Linked DNA regions of Homo sapiens: regions 1, 2 and 3 are each linked to region 4. Evidence: fine-mapped expression QTL. A gene starts in region 4. Each other region holds a variant in brackets. All regions are shown on one strand. Distances are between the middles of the regions.

Region 1 (5,200 bases), 160 kb before region 4:
ATATCTCTGAATTCCTTTTCTCAGCATGGAACGTCCCTGAGAAAGAGAATGCGCACCTAGGGGTAGGTCTCTGAACTGGCCCCCCGGGGCGTACCTGTCTCTTATGGTCGAGATTACAGAGGTGCAATAAACTCCAGTCTCCCATACCGCTCCCAGGCTTATTAGGAAGAGGAAATTCCCGCCTAATAAATTTTCGTCATACCGGTTGATCTCAAAACCCTGTCTCCTGATAAGATGTTATCAATGACAATGGTGCCCAAAACTTCATTAGCAATTTTAATTTCGTTTCAGTCCTGTGGTCCTGTGATCTCGCCCTGCCTCCACTTGCCTTTTGATATTCTATTACCCTTTTAAGTACTTGATGTCTGTCACCCACACCTATTCGCACACTCCCTCCCCTTTTGAAAATCCCTAATAAAAACTTGCTGGTTTTGTGGCTTGTGGGGCATCACGGATCCTACCAATGTGTGATGTCTCCCACGGACGCCCAGCTTTAAAATTTCTCTCTTTTGTACTCTGTCCTTTTATTTCTCAAGCCAGTCGACGCTTAGGAAAATAGAAAAGAACCTACGTGATTATCGGGGCAGGTCCCCCGATAACAATACACCATGGGAAATCTGCTACAGTGTTGAATTTGCGGTAGGAAGAAAAGCTACAGTGGAGAGTGGAAGATCACCAAAAGATCATCTCAGAGAGGATGTGAGTCTGGGATGGAGTTGGTTCAACATTAGGGCCAAGATATTATTCAGGAGAAATATTTTCAGCAAGGACCCAGTGGAAATGTAGCAATGTGGTGCCTGGCTCTCAGCCATCAGATGCCCAGCTGCCAATAGATGTCATGCTCCCTAACCTGCGAGGGAGGGGCTGTGAAGTCATTTTTAATCTGCATGCCCCACTCCCACAAGACAGTCTGACAGTGATAGATACAGCTCAAGAGAAGTGCTGAGAATGCCACAGGCTGACTCTCCCAGATAAAGAACATGAAATGATTTCATTACTTTTGCTCTCCCTGACAGCTCTCTAGAAAACAATCATTGGTTTAAGCAACCAGCCTCCAGGCCAGAACCAGCAGGCCTAGGGAAGGAGTGACTTTTTTGTTTTTCTCAGGAGGATTGTCTAGGTGAAGTGCTTAGGGCATGAGACCTGGGCCAGAAATTGCTTTTACTCTCATGGTCTTATTCTGAAGATTTATTTGCAGGCTTAGGGATGTTCTAGTTGCAAATAATTATCTTTGCTCAGTGAATGATTCCCCATCCTCATCCCTTACATGAATTCACATGAAAGAAGGCATATTTCTTCCCTTTCTAGCCCCAATAGCATTAGAGGTCACAGTTGGTTTTATTCTTGGGGATACAGAAATAGCCACCCATTCCCTTTAACTGGGTGCATGGTTTGGCCCAAGGCATGGGGTGTGACCGAATGAATTTACCCCAACCCAGGTCATTCACCTGATGGTTTGTGTTCTGCTGGAGAAAGATCTCCACTGGAAAAGGCCTGGACCTGAGGCTCATTCCAAAGGGCCCTGGCTTAACACTGCAGAATCCTCCTTCCAACCTGCACAGCTTTGAGCCTTCACTGTACCAGGGTCTCTAGAAGACTTACACGGATAGAGAATTTACTACTCTATCTAGGGCTTCGAACTGTAGCTATTAATTTTTGAATGTTTTTAAAGCACTACTGCAAAGTCTAAGTTTTGTTCATTTATTTCTTTAAGTATTTATTGTGGTATATATAATGTTGTTATAAATCATTTAGATTTATGAGTTGGTGTATTCCACTCTTATGCATGCCCTGCAGAGCCTAAGAACCCTAAAGAGATAATTATTATATATGCTCAGTTCTTAGACGTCCTTGAATAGTGTTCTCACCATGCATAGAAAACACGAGCCCCAGGGGAGTTTTGGTAGCCAGCTTGTTTTCTCCTTGAATTGGACATAGGTGGGAGGATGTTTTTTTCCTTCCTGCTCCCAAAGAACTCTTCTTTTCTTGCATAGAGAAGAATATAGAACTAAATATTTAATTAGGAGAATAAACACCAGGAGCTTGTAAAGAACTCAGTGTGAAGAGAGAAGGATAAGAAGTTTAAGGCAGGTGAAGAAGCTTCTTACACATATCTATCAAGAAAAATCATAACATTTTGTCCAGTCATGGTGGCTCACACCTGTAATCCCAGCAGTGTGGAAGTTTGAGGTGGATGGATGGCCTGAGCTCAGGAGTTTGAGACCAGCCTGGGCAACATGGTGAAACTCTGTCTCTAATAAAGAGACAGAAAAAAAAGAAAAGAAAAATCATAACATTTAGAAAAACAAAATAAAGAAAATGTAAAAGTCACCCATAATTTCACCACTCTGAGTTCATCATTGCTCACATTTTGGTGTATACTCTTCTAGGCTGTGTAGGTTGCAATGTGTGAATGTGCATTTTTGCATGCATGTGGTTTTTTTTTTTTTTTAACAAAAAGTAGTACACTGTGCATGATTGTAACTTGCTTTTTAAAATTCAAATATATTGCCTGACAAAGACAAGTAAAAATAAAATAAAATAAAATTCAAATATATCACAACCATTTTTTATGTCCATGTACAACAGCATAAGGATGTGCCACAATTTACCCAACTAATTCCCTCTAGGTTAGGTCTTTGCATCAAGCTAAATAGACAACCAATAAGTCCTAAATGATTCTGGCACCAAAGTTCAGAAAAGAGCTTTATGAATTAGAAAGAAATTAAGTGCAATGCCCATAGGCTGAAGACGGGAGGCTCACTAACCCTGAAGAATGGGGGAGAGAAATGTGCTAAGGGGCTAAAAATTAGGGTGGATAGAATACAAGTTAGGGAATGGATCTAAAATAGTTGAATCTGTGATGTCAAAAAAATATATAGTTTGGAAGCTGAATATTCTAGTTGTTTTCCTAGGAAAGTTGTGTAACCCTTTTGAGCCTCAATTTCTTCCTCTGTAAAATGGGAATAATTGTTTCTCTATCAGAGTGACTGTAAACATAAAATAAGGAGTTATACAAGACTCTGAACACTGCCTGTCATAGAATAAGTGCTCAATATTTCTTAGTTCCCCTGCTCCACTTCTACCTCTTTGGGTTGTATTGCTCTGGGAAAGTGTGTGGAAGC[G/A]AGGCTTGGACTCTGCACTGTGAGTGGACTTGTGTGCTAATGTGTTCTGATAACACAGGGGCCAGTTGCTTGGAAGGTGGTCAGAAATTAGTGAGTTTCATGCAGATGATTTTTCAAGTTAAATAAAACTTCTCTGAGTCTGAGGTCTGAATGAAAATTCTCTGGGTTTGAGGTCTTACTGAAGTGTTTTCCTTTCACAGCTCTAGTTGGCTGGCAGGTGTGGTATAACACAGTCATTCTCAGAGTGTGGTTCCCAGACAGCAGCAGCATTACCTGGAGCTTGTTGGAAATGCAAATTCTCAGGCCCCACCCAAGACCTACAGAATCAGAAACTCTGGGGCTGGATCCAGCAATCCGTGTTTCAACAAGCCCTGCAGGTGATTCTGATCTCAGAGATTGACTAGTGTGGCAAGAGTCCTGGAAACCCAGAATCCCTAGATCTGGAATATACTCTAGCTTACCATTCACTGTGGGGCCTTGGGCAGGTCACTTCCTTCCTCTAAACCTTCATTTTCTCACCTGGACAATGGGAAGATAATATCTTCCTCGTGACCTCAAATGATTGTTTCACAGGCCCAATGAGTTTAGAAAGGAGAAAGACATTCAATTAATGTATTCTAGAAATGGAATGTATACTTACTATTCTTGGTTCTTAGGCAGGGCAATGTAGAAAGCATCCCTATGTGATGAAGAATGGTTCTATTTTGATCATTGAAAGAAGAGTCTGTGCCCTCCTTGGAAAATCTCACTGGATGCTTTAACAGCCACCGTGGTAGTTTCTCCTATGCAAACCTAAATCCCTGTGCAAGGACAGTCAGTATCTCAAAATGTAAGGATGATATCAGTCACTGGGAAAAAAAAAAATTCTGGCAAAGTAAAAAACCCTTAGACATACAGAGTAATGTTTATTATTTGTTCTCCTTTTTCAGTCCTCAGTGAAAATAGAGAACAGCAAGTCACCCCTTAGAGGTGCACACCCCTCATCTACATGAATGGTATTACGTTGTCTCAGCCCTCCTTTCTTTCCGGCCGCACAGTTGTGCTTTCTTTCACCTCTGCTCAAAGGCTTCATTGTGCTCCCCTTTATTAGTCATCTTGGTTTCTCTTCTCTGAACCATTTCCAGTTTCTTTAGCCACAGCCTCCTATGACGTTCAGTCCTCTTCAGTTCTGGAGCCCAGCATATACTTATTAGGCTGGTGCAAAAGCAATTGCTGTTTTTGCAATTAAAAGTAATAGAACCATCAGAGAGGGTGACCACCATCAGAGAGGATGACCTCATGGTTCTAGCACACTCCACGGACAAAGCACTGCCCTGATGCCTCAGATCAAGGCTATGGCTCCTGGAGAAGCACTGGTGTGGATCAGTTTTACCCTAACTTCTCTTGTCATTCATGTTTTATTTTCATTTCCCTTTGTGTACCATCTTTTGTTTGTGTCTAATGATCTTTTCTATTCTCCCAACTTCTTTGATTTCCTAAATAGAAAGTAAATTTAATATATTTATATTTGCACAGATATTTAGAATAAATGCTCATAAAAAGATTGGAAGGAGAAACACCAGTATCTTAAAAGTAATTTTCCTTGGAAAGTGAGATTACAAGTGATTTCATTTGTTTTTTTCTTGCTTCTCTGAATATTTAAGTTTTTCGATGGTTGACACATCTATTGTTTAATTAAAAAAAAGAAAAAAGAAAATTGGAAAATTAACTCTTAGCATGCTCACAAAACAAATAAAATATAAAATGCTTGTGTTCAATGAGGTCTCATAGACCCACATGAAAGTGTCGTCTCCTGCAAGACACAAAGCTGTGCTTGGTCATAGGACTGTTCAGGACTGTCTCAGTTTTAGCCCTTGGAACTAGGCAAACCAGGACAGGTGGTCGCCCTCTCTCCCAGCCCCCTCCATCCTCTTTTTGTCTGTTAAACCGCCATGGCTGCTCACTGGTCTGTTAGGGCCCATCTCTCTTGTATCTTGCTTTGTCATTTCTAGGGAAGTTCAGCTCAATTGAGCCTTGAGGTAGGAAGACACCTCAGGAACAATATTTGTGTCTGCTGGTTCAGGTGAGGCTTAGCG
Region 2 (5,200 bases), 110 kb before region 4:
TGTGTCTCTGCATTACATTTTGATAATTCTCACAATATTTCAAATGTTTTCAATACTACTATGCCTGTTATGGTGATCTGTGATCAGTTATCTTTGATATTACTGTTGTAATTGTTTTGGAGTGCCTGAAACCATGCTCACAGAAGACAGTGAACTTAATTGATAAACATTGTGTGTGTTCTGACTGCTTCACCAACAAGCCATTCCCTGTCTCTCTCCCTGTCTTCAGGCCTCTCTATTCCCTGATACAGAACAATATTGAAATTAGGCCAATTCATAACCCTACAATGGCATGTAAGTGTTCAAATGGAAGAAGAGTCACATATCTCTCATTTTAAGTGAAAAGCTAGAAATGATTAAGCCTTGTGAGGAAGGCAAGTTGAAAGCTGAGATAGGCTGAAAACCAGGCCTCTTGTGCCAAACATTTAGCCAAGTTGTAAATGCAAAGAAAAAGTTCTTGAAGGAAACTAAAAGTGCTACTCAGTGAACATACAATGATAGGAAAGCAAAGCAGTATTATTGTTGATATAGAGAAAGTTTCAGTGGTCTGGGTAGAAGATCAAACCAGTCACAGCATTCTCTTAAGCCTAAGCCTAATCCAGAGCAAGGCCTTAATTCTCCTTAATTCTACAAAGGCTGAGAGAGGTGAGGAAGCTGCAGAAGAAAAATTGGAAGCTAGCAGAGGGTGTTTCATGAGGTTTAAGGGAAAAAGCCATTTCTATAACATAACAGTGCAAGATGAAGCAGCAAGGACTGATGTAGGAGCTGCAGCAAGTTATCTAGAAGACCTAGTTCAAATCGTTGATGAAGGTGGCTACACTCAACCATAGATTTTCCATGTAGATGAAACAGTCCTCTGTTGGAAGAAGATGCCATCTGACTGGGCATGGTGGCTCACGCCTGTAATCTCAGCACTATGGGAAGCTGAGGCAGATCATTTGAGGTCAGGAGTTTGAGACCAGCCTGGCTAACATGGTGAAACCCTGTCCCTACTTAAAAAAAAAAAAAAAATGCCATCTAGGACTATTAATAGCTAGAGAGGAGAAATCACTGCCTGGCTTCAAAGCTTCAAAAGATATGCTGACTCTCCTGTTAGAAGCTAATGTAGTTGGTGACTTAAAGTCAATTCTTGTTTACCATTCTGAAAATCTGACAGCTCTTAAGAATTATGCTAAATCTACTCTGCCTGTGCTCTGTAAGTGGAACAACCAAGCCTGGATGTTAGCACATTTGTTTATAGCATGGTTTACTGAATAATTTAAGTCCACTGTTAAGGTCTACTGCTCAAAATACAAGATTCCACTAAAAATATTACTGCTCATTGACAATGCACCTGGTCACCCAAGAGGCCTGGTGGAGATGTACAAGGAGACTAACGTTTTCATGCCTGCTGATACAATATCCATTCTGCAGCCCATGGATTAAGGAGTCATTTTGAATTTCAAGTCTTATTGTTTAAGACATACATTTTGTAAGGCCATAGCTGCCATAGATGGTGAGTCCTCTGATAAATCTGGGAAGGAATCTTCTGGGAAGAATTCACCATTCTAGATGCCATTAAGAACATTTCCGATTCATAGGAGGAGATCAAAATATCAACATCAACAGTATTTTGGAAGACGTTGATTCCAAGACCCATGAATGACTTTGAGGGGTTCAAGACTTGAGTGGAGGGGTCACTGCAGATGTGGTAGAAAGAACAAGAGAACTAGGATAAGAAGTGAAGCCTGAAGATGCCATGGAATTGCTGCAATCTCATGATAAAACGTTAAGTGGCTGAGAAATTGCTTCTTCTGAATGAACAAAGAGTTTTGTTTTTTTTTTTGAGATGGAATCTACTCCTAGTGAAGATGCCATGAACATTGTTGAAATGACAACAGAGGATTTAGAATATTCCATAAACATAGTTGGTAGAGCAGCGGCAGGTTTTGTGAGAATCGTCTCCAATTGTGAAAGAATTCTATTGCAGATAAAATGCTATCAAACAAAGCATTGTATGCTACAGAGAAATCTTTGTGAAAGAGAGTCAATCAATGTGACACATTTCATTGTGATCTTACTTTAAGACATTGCCACAGCCTTCCCAACCATCAGCAACCACCACCCTGATCAGTCAGCAACCATCAACATCAAGGCAAGACCCTCCGCCAGAAAAATAATTACAACTTGCGGAAGGCTCAGATGATCGTTAGCATTTTCTAGCAATGAAGTATTTTAAATTAAGGTATATACATTGTCTCTGTAGACACAATGTTGCACACTTAATAGGTTACATTGTAGGAAAAACATAACTTTTTATGCATTTGGAAACTAAAAAATTAATGTGACTTGCTTTATTGCAATACTCACTTTATTGCAGTGGTCTGGACCTGAACCTGCATATTTCTGGGGGATGCTTTTCTACTGCTGCCATCTTTGACCCTAATCCAGATGAGGATCCTGTATAATTTTAGCCAATAAGCCAGTATAACATTTCCCATCACTGGGGAAAGAGAAAGGCTGATCAAGGAGTGAGTCAGATTAGGGTTAGGGATGGGAAGGCTAGAGGCCTTGGGGTCATCACCACCAGAAGAGCATTCTTTCATCTATATTTCTGTTACAGATTTTATTTTCTCCCCCACCCCACATCCCAATTTGATCTTGAAAAGTCCTGGAGGAAGCATTGTTCTTATTCCCA[T/C]TGAAGCTATGCTAACTTTTATAATCAAATTCTTCAACTGTCTAAAGATTACTAACATCAATCCGAAAACCAATTATAGAAAATTCCCTCAGTCAGAGACCCACTTTGAGAGTATTCAGTTGTGATTCAAGGAGCATCACGTGCTAGGAGTCAGGGTAGTTCTAGGTCTAAAGCAGACTTGGGTACTTTTGGCTTGTGCCAGTAAAACTCGCTCGGATTCGATTTTTAAGTTAAAGCCTTTATAGTCTTTCCAAAAAGTTACTCAAAGGATAGGAACGTCTCTAATACAATACATAGTCATACATGTATACAAAACTCACTTTATGTCCCTCACACCCATGACAGGGCACCTCTGGCTTTGGGGCCATGCCCTTGTCCCACATGCCCACCTCACTGTCTCTGTGCCAGAGGAATCTTTCACAGTCAGCAGATGAGGCAAATGTGAGCTGGGGAAGAAGCCCCGAAGAGTATTTCCTTTCATGGCAGAGGCCCATATAATAGATTCCAAAGAAGTGGGAAATACATGTTTCTCCACTGCTTGAAATTTCAGGACTTCCTAATAACATGGTCATATGGAGGCTTCTTTCTAAGCTTAAGAAAAAAAAGCAAACAGAGCTTTTTAAATTTTTTAAAATTCAGGAAAAGTCATAATTTCCTTCCCCAAACCATGACTGGTTTTACCTAATGGACTCAAGGGGTGGGGGGATGTTGGAGGTATCCACTCACATGGTGAGGCTCTTAGGCTCCAAATCCAGAAATTGATTTTTCATTGAATTTCATTGTGAAAGTCTCAAGGTTCAAAAGCCATTTACAAGCGAGAGCCAGCCTCAACCTCAGACATGGTCCATGCATCCTCCACTCTAACAACACTTGAAGTATTTGCTATTCCCAGAACTTGACTTGACTTTCAGGATGCCTCCATGCCTGGTTGATACCATTTCTTCTGTCTGGAATTTTCTTCCTGTCTGCTTGGCAAACTGCCATCCCTTTTTCCAGGGCCCAGGTCTGTTTTTGTTTTGTTTAAGAGACAGGGCCTTGCTCTGTTACCCCGGCTGGAATGCGGTGGCACAATCATAGCTCACTGCAGCCTCAAACTCCTGGGCTCAAGTGATCCTCCCACCTCAGCCTACAGAGTAGCTGGTACCACAGGCCTGTGCCACCATGCCTGAGTAGTTTTTGACATTTTTAAAAAACGTTTTGTAGAGATGGAGTCTTGCTATGTTGCTCAGGCAAGTCTCAAACTCCTAGGCTCAAGTGATCCTCCCACCTCAGCCTCCCAAAGCACTGGGATTACAGGTGTGAGCCACCACGCCCCCCTGCTAGGGCCCAGTTTTTAGGAAGCCTTGAATAATCCTCCCCTAGGAAAAATTAATTACCATCTCTTCTGTGCTCTCAGAATACTTTGTTCACACTCTTTGTTCACAGTATTCACATTGTCATAAGTTGGTGACTTGTTTCCCTTCCTTCCTTCCTTCTCTTTTTTCTTCTTTTCTTTCTGGGTGATGTGGTCGTTAAGGTCCAGGAGAACCAAGAGCTAGTCTTATTTGTCTTGTGTGACAGTGTGGCATTGAGGTTGAGAGTCCAGACTCAAACCACACACACTGCTTGGTTGGCTTGCACTTCCTGGCACCGTGACTCTCTGATTAAGTTTCTTCATCTGTAAAATGGGCAAATTCAATACCCACCTCATAGAGTTGTGAGAATTAAATGGTTTATATAGGCAAATCACTTAGAAAAAATCAGTACCTGGCATAAGTGCTAAGTGCTAGCTTATTATCATCCCTTTACCTAACTCAACGCCTAGCCCAACACACACTAGCTGCTTGTATATGTTTGTTGAATAAGTGACTTAATTAAAGAACATTAGAATGTTTATTAAAGAACATCTACGCTCAGAGGGAAAGTCAAATTTGTACATTATCCTTACTAAAAATTGGTACATTATTTTTACCTTAAATATGCCTAACTTTAAAAAAAACAACAGAGAAAACTTAGCATTTCAAAACAATTGGCTTATCACAAAAGTTTTTGATGGAGAGTTTTATTTGAATTTTTTTCTCTTATCAGCCAATGCTTTAACACAGACGTGATCACTAACTGCTTAACAGATGGACAACTTTTCAGAAAAACTGAATGCTAAAAGTTAATAAAAGCAGAATATTTACATGAGCAAAATTTGATTTTTTTTCAGGTAAAATACAACTATCATGGAAGGTCATACCAGCGTTTTGCTTGGAAAGCTCCCACAGAAATGCTTTATAGGAGAGCATGGACACCTGCACACTATGTCCCCTGGGAAGTTAGAAGCAGACATACTGTTTCTTACTGCACTTGGGTAGAGCCTGGTCTGTTATACTATACTAGGAAATAAGTCTTTAAATTTGACAATGGGAGAGGACTTGGCCAAAACTTTTAGAACACTTCATCTGATTGGAAATTACTTTTTCCTTTGGGCTTGTCCATTTCATGTTCAGGGAAAGGGAAACATGATGTAGTAACGTGATGTTCTGCTCTCATTCTTCC
Region 3 (5,200 bases), 310 kb after region 4:
AAAGCAGAGAACTACATTCATCAGAGTTCCACAGAAAAATAGTTGGAGAGAATTAGCTTTCCCAGGGGTCTTTGTGCTTGTCCATTCACAAGAAAGGAGCTCTCGGAGAAACAAAGCTGCCCCTCGTCCACCTATCCTGGTGTGACCCAGCTTAGCGTCTGAGCAGAGGAAAAGTGTTGGTGGCCATTTCTGGTATGGGGAAAAAGCAAAAGGGAAGATGGTGCTGAAACAGCCGAGCGGATAACTTTTGCCTTCAATATACAAGAGATATTGAGAGAGGATGTGATAGGGAGAGAAGCTTTTTTTTTTTTTTTTTTAAGACAGAGTCTTAATCTGTCACCCAGGCTGGAGTGCAGTGGCACAATCTCAGCTTATTGCAACTTCCACCTCCTGGGTTCAAGCGATTCTCCCACCTTAGCCTCCCAAGTAGCTGGGATTACAGGCACCCACCATCATGCCCGCCATACAGGCACCCGCCATCATGCACCCATACAGGCATACATGCCTGCCATGCATGCACCCATACATGCACCCATACACCCATACATGCACCCATGCATACATGCACCCATACATACATGCAGCAGGCATACATGCACCCATACACCCATACATGCCCACCATACAGGCACCCACCATCATGCCCAGCTAATTTTTGTATTTTTTAGTAGAGATGGGGTTTCACCATGTTGGCCAGGCTGGTCTTGAACTCCTGACCTCAGGTGATCCACCCACCTTGGCCTTCCAAAATGCTGGGATTACAGGCATGAGTCACTGCACCTGGCTGCTTTATTTTGTTTTCAATGGTGTTTGCTGTGCATTGATCATTGTCTCTTTCTTTTAATGTTTGCTAGAGAAATGGAGTAAAGAAGTGAAGAATTAGTAATTAATTTAAATTGTTGGATTGTGTTTCTCCGAACATGCTACTGGGCTGAGAATGGACCATGTAGGGCTCTGGGATTTATTCAGGTTACCTAGCAAATTGAAGCAAGATATCATCAAGAACCAAAAAAGAATAATATGGACAAAGTGTGTTCTGGCTGTGTAGAAGCTGAGGGCTGCTGGAAGCGGGAAAGTCCTGGTGGAGGAAGTGGAATCTGATATCCAGCAGTGCAGAAGGTTTGGCTGGTGAAACTGAGGGGAAGGTGTGAAATTGGCAAAGAAAAAGTTGGGAATCTGCAGAGAGAGAGTAATAGCACACAGTGGGGAGGAAGCACAGCCTGGAGGCAGGAAGGACAGGGTCCAAGCATTGGGCAGCCAGGGAGAAAGGGAAGGCCATCAGGAGGGGAGCTGGGGAGATTGCCAAAATTCACCCTTTATTAGGAGAGCTTAGATGTAAAATATGGCCCTCGACACTATTGAATATATCATAGCAGTTAGATGGACTCAACTCAATGTGCATATCGTACATGGATAGAACTCAAACACATGGTGGTGAGCAAAACAAGAAAGAACCAGAAAAAAGTCTGTAGCACACTATCATTGATGTAATTTAGAAACCTCTACACCCATCAAGCTAAACTTTACAAGGACACAGACAACCAAGGACACCGTGTGCATCAAACTCATTAGAGAGGGCACCTGCAGGGAGGAGCAGGTGCACACAGGGGCTAGAATGGAAGAGGAGAAAAACAAGGACCTCCCCCAAACAAGAGAGGGAACTGGCATGGAGAGGTGATGGTGAAGTGGCAGGAATTAGGGGATAAGGTTACCTTAACTTCCTAAATCTACATTCAAAAAGGAAAACGTGCAAAAGACAGTCTTAGTTGACCACACAAGGCCAAGAGGAGAAGGGCTGTGGGCGCCAGTGGCAGCTCCTCCCATCTCCCCTGCTTTTGATGCTGCGAAAGGGAATAGCAGGTAACTCCACATCCAGGAGCTGCCACAGCAGGACACGGGATCAGGGATGGCCCGTGGGGTAGCAGAAAGAGCACAGGAGTTCCCTGGCCTGCCACCATCTGGCTGGTGACCGGTCAACTCCCTTCCCTGTTCTGGGTCCAAACTGCTTATCTATAAAATAGAGGGTTTGCACTGCAGGTCCTCTATAGACCCTTCCAAATCTAAAATCCCTACCCTTCCTCCTGACCTAGGAGAAAATACCAGCAACCTAAGGAAAGTTCAGCTCCAGTCACCTCCCGATTCTGGGCCATCCCAGAGGGTAGAGTCAGGCTCCACGATTTGATTTCATGGCCGGTGAATATAAAGCAAATCCATCAATGACCCCTCAATACACTGATATGAGAATTACAAATCAATCTTCATAGAGGTTATATTGTCTTTATAGTGTGCTTTGCATACGTTTGTATGACTCATGAAACCCTAAACATTTGTTTTTCTCTAAAAGAAGGAGTTATATTCAGTGACCGAAATGAACCATGCCAGTGTGTGTGTGTGTGTGTGTGTGTGTGTGTGTGTGTGTTTGGTGTTGGAAATGGGTGTAAATGCTGTTATTTTCCTTTCAGTAATGAACTGATTTCCTC[A/T]TCTAGGCAGGAGCACTCAAGGAATCAATGCTATTGACCACTGCCACAATTGTCATGTTTTAAGCCATTTCTCGTTTTATTCATGCTCTCGTGTATCTCCTGTGTTTGACAAGCTCTTTCTCTGGGTAATAAAGGACCATTTCTAGTTCCCTAGAACTGTTTATTTTGTCCCCTATTGTTTATTACAATGCAGGTGTGGACTATTTGTGAATTTGCCTAAGTAACAGAATTGAAGGTAGAGTAGTTGTAGACTCAAAATTTATTTATGAAGCATTAATATGGAACCTGAGCCTGGAAAGGTGGCGGGTGAGGGATTTCTGTGGGAGCCGGGAATGTTCTGCCTCTGGATTAGGGTGTTGGTTACACAGGGTATGTTCAGTTTGGGAAGACCCATCAAGCAGTACATTTATGTGTTTTTCTGCATATATATTATATTTCAATTATATATATATTTAATAAAAGTATTGAAGTCACCAGTAGCTCATATTCTTGTGGGGATGTGTAGGGATTAACAATCATTAATAGACTTGGTTACTAGTAGTCAAATTTCATCTCAGGCTCATAGAAGTTTAAACATGGAAGGGATCTTAGAAATAATTCAGTTTAATTTTTAATTTGCAGCTGAGGAAACACAGGCCCAGATGGAAAGTGGCTTGCCCAATCCCACACAGCAAGGCAGAGATGGATCCATCCAGCTCTCTCCTCCCAGCCAGGGCTTAGCGACAACACAGCTACAGGTGAGATGGTGCAACCAAAGAGAGCTGAGCTGTTGGAGACAAACATTGTGTTTATTCAGATATTCTCTGGTGGTTTCAGTCTAAACTGAGGAATTATTTGTGTTGAAGGTCACCTACCATCCTATAGTAATCTGTGGCAAAATTACTGGAATCTACATCTGAAAGTCCTTCTGCGGGTTCTTACTTCTAAGTCAAAGATTATCTGAATTAAGGCTGGATATGTGTTTGTGAAGGGAGAAGGAAATAATTTACCAGCGATTGATGGGTGCTGTTTACATATAGAAGCATTTTTTTTTTTTTAGTTTGGAGCTAAGGTAATTTGCTTTTAGATATGCAGAATAAGGCAAGGCCATTTCTGTTTCCTGCCTTTCTCCTCCCAGGGGCATGAGAGGCTCAGAGGCCTGGTCCTCTGGCTGGTGGAGCCTTGGAGGCAGTAGTGAAGATCCCTGGAAGAGGGAGGCCATGAAGAGGGATGCAGATACCTGGCAAGCCCACCTCCCTTCTATGCCACCTGCCAGCCTTCTCTGACATTCCCAAACCAGGGACCAACACCGCCAATCAGGGAAGATTTACACGCATTTAATTATGTAAGTCTCATTAGTTGACGCAGAGGGAACTCGTACGATGAACACACTCTGGCAAGTCAGTTATTTAGCACCTCTCCCTACCTGCTCCACCTGGAAGAGGCCCATGAAATAAATGCCCTGAGTCGTTTGGGCAGTAAACTAGAAACTCAGAATCCATAACTCAGGTTTCCTACACTGTCAGTGTAGGAAATGCTGTATTGGCAATTTCAAACAAATAAACTGGTTTTGGGGGAGGGAGTGGGGTGCTGAGAAGGGAAGGGGAGGGAGGGACAGACACAGGGAAGGGGAAACAGAAAGAGGATGAGAAAGCATGCCCTAAACAAGGAGGCTGCCACTGAAGTTTGTGCTTCAGGCCAGAACAAAAGGCAGAGGCCTTTAGCAAGGCAAGTGCTGAAGTCCACAGGCAAGGAAAAGAAAAGACTTTAAGCAATGATTAAAAGAGGCAGAGAAACTCATAACCTGTGTTTGTTGTACCAGAAAGAAAAGCTTATACATATAGTTTATTAGTTTCCACCATTGTCATCGCCTCTGGCAGCATGTACAGTAGGAAATACCAGAAGGGAGGAAAAAAAGCAAAACAAAACTTAAACTTGATTCCCCTCCTGCTAACCCTGTCCTGTCAAGCAAGGCGAGATAAGGGGAACAGTTCACCTTGTCCTCCTGAAGATCAGGCCATCAGGATAGGGTGGCCTAGGGATCACCACGAAAAGCAAATGAGTTGTTGTTGCTGTTACAACTCAAAACCCCTTTTAGAAGCTGGGGCCCCAGCCAGGCTTTAGAAGTCCACAATGGGCATTGTTTCAGGAATCCCCCACCCTGCAGAAAAGGGACTTTATTTTTGTTCCATCGCAGCAGAGCTCTAGCTAACGTCCAGCCTCAGGCCCTTTCCCGCACAGCTACCCCTGGCAGGACGCTCGCCGGTTTAGCCCAGCCTGTCTGCCCCTCCACCTTTTGCCTTCTCTAATTCTCCCCAGCTCTCTCTCTCCTCTTTTTTTTTTAATAGTAAAAAAAAAAAGCTGGAGAAGCTACTTGAAGTCTGGGGTTTGGACAGGAGGTGAGATCACTCTCCCAGAGGCACCATGGGGCAGAAGTGGAGAGCCAGGCACTGTCCCCAGCTGGCCTATCCTGGCCACTTCCTTCCCAGGCCCATGTGGGTCACTGGGCTCCTCAGAGTTGGTGTGACCCTGGGTTCCATGGGAAAGGTCTGCTCCTCACTCCAGCCCAGGCCTCTTTCTGATCCGTAGGCAACGGCTGTGGTCTGGGCAGGCTGCTTTCTCCTAACCTGCCTTAGGGTTTCTTTCAGCTTAAAACAAAAACAGGGTGCTCCATGCACACTGTTTCTAGATTCCATTATATTTAGCAAGCACGAGGCCCTGAGTCTGCTGAGAAGGGCTGA
Region 4 (5,000 bases):
TTGCTGGAAATATTCCATTTCTTGACCTGGTTGATTGGTTACATGGTGGTTTCCTTTATAATCACTTATACTATATAATTGCTTTATGTATTTAAACTATATTTCACAATAAAAATGTTAAAATTAATATAGATAGTATTTCTGGAAAGCAAAATTTTGCCAGATAATTTAGCTTACACAATCTTTGACAGTAAAAGCCACTGATATGGAATAACGAAACACTGATTAGTTTCTTGTAAGAGCTCACTTTCAAGTGTAGAGGTCAAAAACCTTATAAGAGTCTCCGTTTTTCTATATTTTAACACAGTATTTAGATCCTTATCTTAAATTGATGAACCAGGGAAGTAACTATTAGCTAAAACTTCAGATTTTTTGGAATTTTTAATTAACTAGCTGTTTTCTCCTCTGGATTAATAAGCAATACAAGGAACTAAAGAGATGCAGACCAAGTTGGAAATGTATGAACTTCCTTCTCTCCAGTCTCCAGTTCCAGCTGTTTCCTCCTGTTATCAAGCTGGGTGCTGAGGTGGGTATCTAGCCCAGTAAGCTTAGTGTGCTGTTATTAAATACTTTCTAAGTAAGTGGCTCAGGCTCTCCTGAGTGCCCTTCTGTTCCTCAGCACTGAGGTTGTAAGGTGGAGCCACTGACAATGAAAACAGAAGATCACGCTGCTGAAAAACCCTATGTGGTACACACTTAACTGGAGGTGTTCTCTGCTGGGCTGCAGAACTCTGATGTTTGCACTCTTTTCCTTCAAAGCCTACAAAGGTTAAACTCTCTGAGGTGTTTAGCTTCACAAAATCCCCTAAATCTGTGTGTTTTACTCCTTTAATTTCCACCATTCCCCTGTTGTAAGATAGGAAGAGGGGGAAAAACAAAAAATATTTATTTTGTAGCCATGTGAGACCATCACTTGTTGGTCTGATTACCTGTGAGTCTTATTTGGAAGGCTGTAGCAGGGGATTGGTCACGTAAAGACAGAAAAATCCAGGGTAATTTAAGCAGGATATTTAACCTGGCTCTTGGAACTTCAGGTCAAGGGCAGTAGGGTCAGGTGCTAGTCTGTGAGTCTCTCCTTGGTTTTGCCACATCCTCCTTTGCCCCTCTCACCACCTTTCCCGCAGCATTTTAATGAACACGAGCCCTTGGATTTACCCAGTTAAAAGTTTCCTTAGTTTACTGTTTGCAGATGGTAGTGGCAGTAGTGGGAGAAACCCAGAGCTTCCCACATTTGTCTATAATACACTTGCTCCTACCTTACCCCCTCCTCCAGGTGGAAAGACTTGTAAAATCCATTACTACTGCTTCCCAAGGAGGTAGAGTGTACTAGGGTCCAGGGACAGAATTGTGGAATCTGCTTTCATCATTGCTGCTGCTTTAATCTTTTTCTCATACTATTCACTGAAGACAGATTTCTGAGGATTCTGGTCCTTTTATCTTAAATTTGTTTTCCTAGAGAACTACACTTTAAACTTCATGAGTTTCTACTTAACTTTCCTTTCCAGGATAACATCTGTAGGAAAAGCTGCATAATAGTAATAACACTTATTTTAGAAAGAAAATAACCTTTGAGTCAGACCTGAAACAGGCCAACATTTCTTGATGACAACGTACACTGATGAACCAAGACCAGAAGCTCTCGAAAGCTCCAAACCGTAAGAAAGAACCATTCGTAAAAGTGAGGGACTATTAAATTCTTCCCCTGACAGTCAAAAATCCTTCAGCAATCTCCCAGAGGATGGCTCCCTTCCAATCCTCCCTTCCCGCCGCCCTAACAATCTGCGCGAGGATGGGTCCCTTCCCTTGCTCGGCATTTCGTCTCCTTTTCCACTAAAGACTCAGGTTGTGACTCTGTACTCAAGCCGCACCCCTGTTTCCTTTCATGGCTAGGGGGAGGGGAGGAATGTATTACAACTCATTTTTACAATGCACTGCAGTTTACAAAGCGCTTGCACTTCCACCATATCCTCTGAGCTTCACGAGTGCCACGTGAGAGAGGCATTCATTCATTCATTCATTCATCAAACATTTGCTCGGCCCGACCACACGTTATCCAACGCTGGGTCTCACCCCACGCCACGGGAAGGGTGGGGCGCTCTCTCCCTGGAGCAGGTGCAGATCAGGCTGTAGGGTAACTCCTCGATCAGTCCGGCTTTTCGAGGGTCTGTTTGGGGCCAAATGCCTCACCTTCGGGTGGTGCGCGCAGCTGCCTGAAGACGCGGCCTGGGCCTCCTCCTTCCTCCCAAAGGAGCAGTCCCCACCTGCCCCGAAGGAAACCGCTACAGACCAAGCTCTCCAGGCCGCCCTCGGGTCAGGGGTAAGATCGGGCGGCAGCTTAGGCTCGACTCGGCTCCTCCCCTTCCTCTCTTCAGTTCTGACGCGGCCGTAGAGGCGGCAGCGGCGGTGGCGGCTGCGAGTCCCGCGGCCCGAGGCGCACCCACCCGCTCGCCGATCCCCACTTCCTCTTCCCTTGGAGCGTCATCAGAGCGCGCCAGAGGCGCCCAGGGCGGGGTGGCTGGAAGGGGGAAAAAGGCCAGCGGAGGAAGCCTCAGAGCGGAAAGAAGAGGGAGGGGGAAGAGAGCGGTTGCTAGGTGACTTGCGTCATCGGCAGGCGCCGCTCTCCTCCCGCCCCTCTCTCTGGAGTGAGGCGAGAGCCCCGCACAGAGCGAGGGAGACAGCGAGCTGAGCTCCGGGCGCTGCCGCTGCCGCTGCCGCCGCCGCCGCCGCTGAGACTGAGAGCGAAGGAGCATCCGAGAGATCCAGTCCCCCTGCACTGGCCGCCGCCGAGACCTTCGCTCTCACCTGGGCCAGCGGGAGCCGCGGCCGCACTCCTTTCCCCCCCTCACCTTCCCGGCCGGCAGCGGCGGCTGCACACGCCGGAGCCGGAGCCAGAGCCGGAGCCCGAGCCTGAGCCGGAGCCGGCGGCTTGGGGGGCAGGGAGGCGGCTACCACGGGCCGGGAGTGGGTAGCTGCTCCGCGGTGAGAGAACGCTGAGGAGGCGCCAGAGCTTCTGCCTCGTCCCGTGGGGCGTGGGGCGAGACCCCCAAGGTGTAGGGAGGGGGGTCCCAGCCGCAGCGACACATGCGGGAGCCGGGAGCGGGGGCGGCGCCGAGCGGAGCCGGCCGGGTCCCTCGCCTTGCCGCCGACTCGGCCACCCGCCCGGGGCCGTAGCATCTTGCCCCGGAGTGTATGAACCGGGGCCCCAACCAAGCTCGGCAACCACCCCCCGGCCGGGGGGGCGGGGACCCCGATGTGAAGCGGCGGCTGGGGCGGCGGAGAGAACAGGACCGACGCCGCCGTCCTTTCCTCACCTTCCCCCTCCCCTCAGCCCCCTCCGGGGGTCTTCTCCCTTGGCCAGTCGCCGGCCCCCCGGCTCCTTGGCTGGACTCCGGGAGGAGTTCCTAGAGCCCCCCTCCCCCGCCCCAGTCCCGAGGGCGGCGGGGCCGGGGGGGACCCGGGGGGCCGGCCGCAGCCTCCACCCAGAGGAAACTTTACAAAAACAAAATCCGGAGTCTCCCAAACCTGACTGTCCCGGGAGAAGTGGCCCTGGACGGGCAGAAGCCGCAGCCTGAAAAGACCCAGGAAGAGGAAAAGAGGAGGTAAGCGGGGCCGCCGCCTCCCCTCCCCTGGCAGCGCGGAAGAGACCCGGGTTGCCGCCTGGTTTAGCGACACGAGCACCGCTTCTTCCTCAGTACCGCGCCGGAGCCTTCCGCAGCTGCCGCTTCAGTCCGAAGGAGGAAGGGAACCAACCCACTTTCTCGGCGCCGCGGCTCTTTTCTAAAAGTGTGAGTGGCCCCGGGAGAGGGAATTGAGGGGGAGAAAGTGGGAGGATGCCGGCGCTTCCTCCTGGAGTTTTGCTGATGTTCTCCAGTAGTGTTGGGAGTCTATCAATGAGGGAGTCTAGCTTTATTCACGGAGGGGGGAAGGTGTTAGGGAGGCCTGTATTTTGTAACTTTTTAGCTCTTTGTACGAGTAATGCAAGTATGCAGGTTTCTGTCGGAGGAGTCTTTTCTCCAAAGTGAATACTCGCACCTTTCTGGCCAGCAGTTGGCAAAGGGAAATTGAGGAAGCCAGAGCATATGTGCGCACAGAGGCCATCTGTATCTGTAACCTTTTCCTGGTACTGTGGGTGTGTGCGGTGTACTTTTTGTTTCGGGGGTACTCTCATATAGGTTCCCGAATGAGAACTACTTAACCTGTGGACCCCTGAAAGTAAAATTCCTTTTTTAAAAAACAACAACAAACCTGTTTTGAGAGAGGTTCATTTCAGTACCTATTGGTACAGGAGTTAACCTTCTCAGTTACTGGGTCCAATTTCATGTGTGTCAGGAGGACACTGTAACAGATGTCAGTTACTCAGGAACTTGAGTTGTTAGGAATCACAACTTACTTGGGGAAGAGCATTTATCACATTAATCATTTTATAAAAGTTGTGATTTTTTCCCTTTCACCCCCCCCTTTTTTTTTTTAGAGTAACAAATTACAGCACTTTTTTATTTGGTTTGAGGCTTTGCTTTTTTGAATTATCTTTATTTCTGTATCAATTTAGGATACATCTTTGATATTTAAGTCAGGAATGATTTTTTCCTTCCATTATTTTAAAGCTGAAGTTTATAAAACCTTTGACTTGTATTTTAGGTATCTTGTCAGAGTACCAAATTAAAGGTTTATGAAAGTAATTAATATTTCATATACAGACCTTAAGGGTTAAACATAGAGCAGAATTTTATGTAAGAAGACATAGACAGTAGTATACTGAGAATTGTGGTCCGTCTAGACAACTGTGGGCTCGTTCTGTCTGAAGCCACTGCTGAGAGATACTTTGTGGGAATGAATGTAAGCCTGGGGTTATCTCTCTTTTCGAAGTTCTCCATTCAGGATCTTGATTAGATTAATTTAAAACTTTCTCAAACTTAACAATGTTTGGTCCTTTTTTTTAAAGTAATGAGTTCTGCAAGTTTATTAGCCTGTGTATTATGTGACAGTTCATTTACATATTC

Direction of the effects. Alleles are on the strand shown, and positions count from the first base shown. SD is a standard deviation of normalised expression in the study named. Not every link is listed here.
In carriers of allele T in region 3, the expression in CD4 T cells of the gene that starts at base 2,634 in region 4 tends to be higher than with A alone (large effect, 0.89 SD a copy in Kasela 2017).

What was found. PIP is the estimated chance that this variant, and not a neighbour inherited with it, causes the effect.
Region 1: its variant is fine-mapped to the expression of FBXW7 in whole blood (TOPMed, PIP 0.95).
Region 2: its variant is fine-mapped to the expression of FBXW7 in whole blood (INTERVAL, PIP above 0.99).
Region 3: its variant is fine-mapped to the expression of FBXW7 in CD4 T cells (Kasela 2017, PIP 0.95).

Annotation. Positions count from the first base shown.
Region 1 is chr4:152,696,099-152,701,298 of GRCh38, reverse strand. No RefSeq gene overlaps it. Among named protein-coding and RNA genes, the nearest start is that of TMEM154, 19 kb to the right of the region's middle. RefSeq lists enhancers at 73-584, 4,056-4,105, 4,136-4,365. The variant G/A (reference allele first, on the strand shown) is at 3,126.
Region 2 is chr4:152,646,996-152,652,195 of GRCh38, reverse strand. All of the region lies in intron 3 of TMEM154 (transmembrane protein 154), which reads left to right. Among named protein-coding and RNA genes, the nearest start is that of TMEM154, 30 kb to the left of the region's middle. The variant T/C (reference allele first, on the strand shown) is at 2,678.
Region 3 is chr4:152,223,848-152,229,047 of GRCh38, reverse strand. It overlaps LOC105377490 (a long non-coding RNA gene), which reads left to right and starts at 3,176. Exons shown (of 3, transcript NR_188450.1): 1 at 3,176-3,217; 2 at 3,598-3,804. The variant A/T (reference allele first, on the strand shown) is at 2,481.
Region 4 is chr4:152,533,726-152,538,725 of GRCh38, reverse strand. It overlaps FBXW7 (F-box and WD repeat domain containing 7), which reads left to right and starts at 2,634. Exons shown (of 14, transcript NM_001349798.2): 1 at 2,634-3,599; 2 at 3,693-3,785. It overlaps MIR4453HG (MIR4453 host gene), which reads right to left and starts at 2,462. Exons shown (of 1, transcript NR_033797.2): 1 at 1-2,462. MIR4453 (microRNA 4453) reads right to left here and starts at 2,298; the gene lies at 2,210-2,298. RefSeq lists enhancers at 2,339-2,698, 2,404-2,939, 4,189-4,288 and a silencer at 2,809-3,598.